Linked DNA regions of Homo sapiens: region 2 is linked to region 1. Evidence: fine-mapped expression QTL. A gene starts in region 1. The other region holds a variant in brackets. All regions are shown on one strand. Distances are from middle to middle.

The links. PIP is the estimated chance that this variant, and not a neighbour inherited with it, causes the effect.
Region 2: its variant is fine-mapped to the expression of ID3 in neutrophils (CEDAR, PIP 0.91).

The regions. Positions count from the first base shown.
Region 1 is chr1:23,558,530-23,561,433 of GRCh38, forward strand. It overlaps ID3 (inhibitor of DNA binding 3), which reads right to left and starts at 972. Exons shown (of 3, transcript NM_002167.5): 1 at 598-972; 2 at 406-490. The coding sequence starts at 897. The coding sequence ends at 431. The region is part of intron 2 of LOC124903876 (a long non-coding RNA gene); the gene reads left to right. RefSeq lists silencers at 912-1,171, 1,039-1,285.
Region 2 is chr1:23,580,673-23,583,576 of GRCh38, forward strand. No RefSeq gene overlaps it. Among named protein-coding and RNA genes, the nearest start is that of ID3, 23 kb to the left of the region's middle. The variant G/A (reference allele first, on the strand shown) is at 1,638.

The sequences.
Region 1 (2,904 bases):
GCTGATAACTCCGCGCCCCACGCTGCCCCCACCCAGTTGGCGCCAAAGACCACAGGCGGAGCTTGCGCTACCCCTCCTACTTGGAATTGACACTAGCTGGGAGGGGGCTGCCGAAGACAGCTCCCTATACAACATGGAACAGAAAGACTTGTATTTAGTCGGACCCATGTCTACTTTGCCAGACCCTCGGCCACTGCGGGAGGGCAGGGCCCAGGCGCATTTAAGGCTTAAATGCACATCACATGGAAACTGACTCTGCCATTCATTTGATGCAACCATGGGCAAGTCACTTGTCCCTCTCTGGCCTCAGTTTCCCTAAACCGAGTGAGTGGCAATTTTTCAAAACGTCTGCCAACTCCAGGACTTGCCGTTTAAACCTCCCTCTCCAAGAGAGGAGATACTCACCTGGAGGTGTCAGGACACGGCCGAGTCAGTGGCAAAAGCTCCTTTTGTCGTTGGAGATGACAAGTTCCGGAGTGAGCTCGGCTGTCTGATTAGAGGAAAAGAGGGAAGAGTTACGCGAGGCAATCGGGAGCTCCGAGGGTCCCGCAGCATCCTTGCCTGGGTGTTCAGCCCTGTCCCGACTTCGAGGCTTACCTGGATGGGAAGGTGGGGGCCATCAGGGGGTCCAGGGGCTGGCTCGGCCAGGACTACCTGCAGGTCGAGAATGTAGTCGATGACGCGCTGTAGGATTTCCACCTGGCTAAGCTGAGTGCCTCTCGGGACTCCGGGTACCAGTTCCCGCAGGCGGGAGTAGCAGTGGTTCATGTCGTCCAGCAAGCTCAGCGGCTCCTCAGCTGCCGGGCCCTTCCCTCGGCCCCGGGCGATGGCCAGACTGCGTTCCGACAGGCAGCACACCGCCTCGTAGCAGCCGCGCACCGGGCTCAGCGCCTTCATGCTGGGGAGTGAGTCCAGAGGTGCCCCAAAGAGAAAGAAAACCAAAAGAAGTCCCGCTACAGTGACCTGCAACGCGCGCACGCTCGCCGCGGCGGTCACTTATAGAGCCTGCCTGGAAGGCACGCCTCTTTATTCAAAATGGCCCGCCTCGGCCCTGCCCCCGCCGGCCCTGGGCGTTCACAGCCCGCTTAAATTGCAAACAGGCTTCCTCCGGCTGGTCTGACGCCGAAGACCGCGGAGCCGCGGATTCAAAGAATGAGGAAGCGCTGATACCGGGGAGAGGCGGGCCTCTCCGCCAGCAAGGATTTAAAAATCACTCAAAACCATTAACTTCCAGAATTTGCTTTTTCCTGGCAGCACCCCAGATCTTTGAGCTTCCCTGCCCCCTGCCAGTCCGCCTTTAGCCCAACACTGGTTCGAGCCACAGCTCCTCCGAGGTCATAAATCCCTGAACAGCAAAGAAGCTCCCCCCACCCCCCGTTTTTTTTAAGCGAAAGATTTTTCAAGGGAAACTTGTAAGGAATTAGTGCCGCCTTGTTCCCCAATTTGCTGTTCGTCTGACCTCCAGACTCACTGGCGTCAGGAATTATCTTGTGACCAGAGGGAAAAAAAATTAATTGCGGTGAAGCTGAGGTTACAATGAAGAAAACAGATTTGCGCTAGGCGCTGAGATTGCAGAAGGAGGAGGGAAAGGGGGTTTGAGCAAAGAACACTATTTATTTGAGCAACAGGGGAAAAGAAGAAAGCTTGAGCCCATGCTTTTTGCATGGGGAAAAAAGGAGCCTGGACCCTCTGCCCCATAAACTCCATAACGAACTAAATATATGCACAGTTGTGCTTTGTGAGTTCAATTAGAATTTTGGACAAGGTTTTAAATATGGAGGCACAGATGGGACAATTTCTACATAAACCTTTTTAAGAGCCCCCCCCCACCCAATTGGGTCAGCAAATTTCTTAACTTCCCCTCTCTTCACTTTCCACACACCTCTGTGTAGAAAACAGTGGTAATTTCATTGCTCTATTGTCTGTCCCTTTCTGCTATGGAAGGGCAGGCCACCTGGACTTGATTATTCTTAGCCCTGCTGAAGTAGCTCCAGCTCCATCTGAAAGACCAGGAAAGGAACCAGAGGGCCGGCAAACTAAGTCCTGTATTGCAACAGGACACTGTGCTCAGTATTCTTTGATTCTTTGCTTGCCTTCTTGTCACCTCCCTAGACATTTGGGGACCTGCACTTCCAAGATGCTGCTTTCCATTTTGGAAATGACCAAGTGGGATTCCCCCAATAGTTGCTTTCCTAATGAATCATTGGTGAATATTTATGGAGTCCCTCCGCATAAAACAGTGGCTCCTGCTTTCAAGAATCTCACAATTTGGGGAGACAAGATTAACACAGGAAACAAGAGTTCGATAATGTGTGGCACTGATTAACAGGACAAGGGGGGCTCAGAGCCAAAGAGAGTCGCAAAACGGTTGAAAAGGACACTGACTGGGAATTGAGAGCCCTGGGTTCATCATGCTAGCCCTGACAATAATTTGTCATGTAATCTTGAACAAGCCCAGGTACTCTGGCTTTAATTGCCTTGTGAGTAAAATAGACGATGGTACTAAGTGATTATTTAAAATCCTTTCCAATTGTAGAAGTCCAAGGTTGTGTGAAATTTGGATATGTAGGTGAAAGATGCTGAGGGGCCCAAGGAAGGCATTTAAGACATGCCCAATGTCACACTACAAGTAATAGCAGAGCCAGTCTTGAAGCCTCGTTCTTTTCCATCAAACCACAGGGCTCTGTGGCCCAAGAAAGATTTCTTCCTGGAATGTTTTTTTCAAGGACAGGCTCTTCAGTAAGAAAAGAGGAAGAAAACCTGTGAGTGGGCAAGTCAGTCTTTACATGCTACAGCCGTCAAGTGCCAGCTATTTGGTCAGGAAAGGCAAAATAATGGCTGTAGGAACTCCTGAATAACCGAAGAGAAGATCCTTCTTTTCCTATCTTGCAGACTTCTGTGGCA
Region 2 (2,904 bases), 22 kb after region 1:
CTTCCACTCTGGGGCCTGACAGACCTGGGGTTGGCACCTGCCTGTCCTATGGTCTTGACTTTGCTCCCCTGAGCCTCAGTTTCTTCCTTTGTAAAGGGGAGAGCCAGAGTAAAGCTGCATTTGTAGAGTGCCAGACAGTGTGCTAAGCCCTTTATCGCATCCTAAGACTCCGCTTGGATGATAATAGGCCAGGAACGCCATTAACAAAGAAACTGTGTTTGAAATTGACAGCTTCACATTGCCACATAAGAAGCAACCTCCACCTCGTGTTTTTGCTTTGAATCTGACCATGTGGTAACTCAAGAAAACTCATGAATATTGGAGTCAGACAGGACAAGGTTCAAAGCCTGGCTCTGGTGTTTACCAGCTGGGTGAAACTGTGTGATCTGTCTTGCACTTCTGAGCCTCTCATAGTTTGCAAAATGGGAATGGTACTGGTCCCTACTTGATGTTGATGTGATGATTAAATTAAACGATAATTTTAAAAGCATGCTGTTACGAGCTGTGCCACAGAGGGTAGCACAGTTCCAGCACATAGGGGAGGCTTCTCTCTGAAGATGCTACTGCTGAAGATGCTGGTTCAGGAGGGGACAATCCAGGAAGAGTAAGCCAGTACACAGAGGACGGCAACAGCTGGGGACTGATTTTCCCAGAGGAGGAATGAGGGACAGCGCAGGCCTCTTGGGCAGCTGCTTCCTGGGGTTGTGATGTCACCGGCCCATCCAGGAGGCCACAGTACCAGCGCCTGTTACTGCCTCCCAGCTGGCCGGCTCCACTTCCTGCGCCCTGAGCCTGCCCTTGCCTTCTTTCTCATGACCCTCGGGAGGCAGCTGGGCTGCAGCTCAGAAAGCAACGCTCATCTGCAAGTTGGGACAGCAGAGGCCCTTCATTCCTCCCCAGGGCTCCCACACCTTGGGAGGGACTGTGAAGAGTGACTCTTGTCCAGTGGTTTTCAAACTGGGTTCCTCTAAGCCCTGGGGTATTAGTGCCCCAGGGACCCCTGAAGGTAAGGAGGTGGCGCGTGGTGGAAGCAAGGGGCACCCTAAGAAGGCTCAATTCTTTTTTTTTTTTTTTTTTTTTTGAGATGGAGTCTCTGTCGCCCAGGCTGGATTGCAGTGGCGTGATCTCAGCTCACTGCAAGCTCTGCCTCCCGGGTTCATGCCATTCTCCTGCCTCAGCCTCCCAAGTAGCTGGAACTACAGGCGCGTGCCACCACGCCCGGCTAATTTTTTGTATTTTTTAGTAGAGACGGGGTTTCACCATGTTAGCCAGGATGGTCTCGATCTCCTGACCTTGTGATCCACCCACCTCGGCCTCCCAAAGTGCTGGGATTACAGGCGTGAGCCACCATACCCGGCAGCAGGCTCAATTCTAATGCCACTCCCTTCACTCTCCAAAGCAGCTTTTTTTTTTTTTTTTTTTTTTTTTTTTGAGATGGGGTCTTACTCTGTCACTCAGGCTGAAGTACAGTGGCATGATCTGGGTTTATTGCAGCCTCGACCTCCTGGGATCAAGCAATCCTCCAACCTCAGCCTCCTGAGTAGCTGGGACTACAGGTACATGCCACAATGATCAGCTAATTTTTTATTTTTATTTTTGTATGGACGGGGTCTCCTCATATTGCTCAGGCTGGGCTC[G/A]AACTCTTGCTCCAGTGATCTTCCCACCTGGGCCTCCCAAAATGCTGGAATTACAGGTGTAAGCCACTGTACCTGCCTAACAGCCCCACTTATTATTATATTTTTTTAGACTGAGTCTCGCTCTATCACCCAGGCTAGAGAGCAGTAGCACGATCTTGGCTCACTGCAAGCTCTGCCTCCCGGGTTGACACCATTCTCCTGCCTCAGCCTCCTGAGTAGCTGGGACTACAGGTGCCCACCACCATGCATGGCTATTTTTTTTTTTTTTTTTTTTTGTAATAGAGACAGGGTTTCACCGTGTTGGCCAGGATGGTCTAGATCTCCTGACCTTGTGATCTGCCCACCTTGGCCTCCCAAAGTGCTGGGATTACAGGCGTGAGCCACTGTGCCCGGCCACAGCCCCACTTTTTATCTTGTTTATGAATTGAGTCTTCATATCAAATTTAATTTGGGAAAAAAAGACTGTGACAAAAGAAAGTTCAAAAAACCTCTGATCTTATGCATATGGGAATTAAATCCCAGTTTAAAAAAACGCTCCAAACTATTCTACTCATTTCATTTTCTAGATGGGAGACTGAGGCCAAGTGAGGAGGGGGGGCTCATTTGCAGCCACCCAGTGAATCAGTGTCAGAATCAGGAACCAGGCCTCCTGCTATACCAGATTCTGTTTCTACATCATTTGGTACCAGGTGTGGGGTGGGGGGCAGACAACTCTGATTCTCACACCTGGCAATCACCACCTTACTTCTGTCACTCCGGGAGGCACAGCTCAGAGGCAAAGTGAATCCAACTCAGTGACAGAAAACTGAGCCTGAAGCTAAACATGCAATCATCTCACCTCACTGAGCCTCAGTTACCTTCCTCTGTCAAAAGATAATACCGGTACATAGGCCTGGTGTGGTGGCTGACGCCTGTAATTGCAGCACTTTGGGAGGCTGAGGTGGGCGGATTACTCAAGGTAAGGAGTTTGAGACCAGCCTGGCTAACATGGCAAAGTCCCGTCTCTAATAAAAATACAAAAATTAGCCGGTGTGCTACAAGCATGTGCCTGTAACCCCAGCTACTCGGGAGGCCAAGACAGGAGAATTGCTTGAATTTGGGAGGCAGAGGTAGCAGTGAGCTGAGATCGCACCACTGCATTCCAGCCCGGGTAATAGAGACTGTCTCAAAAACAACAACAAAAAACTGGTGCCTGAAGAGGAGTACTGAGAGGACCTAACTTATTAGTTGTTCTTTCAACAAACATTTTGAAAACAACTACTATGTC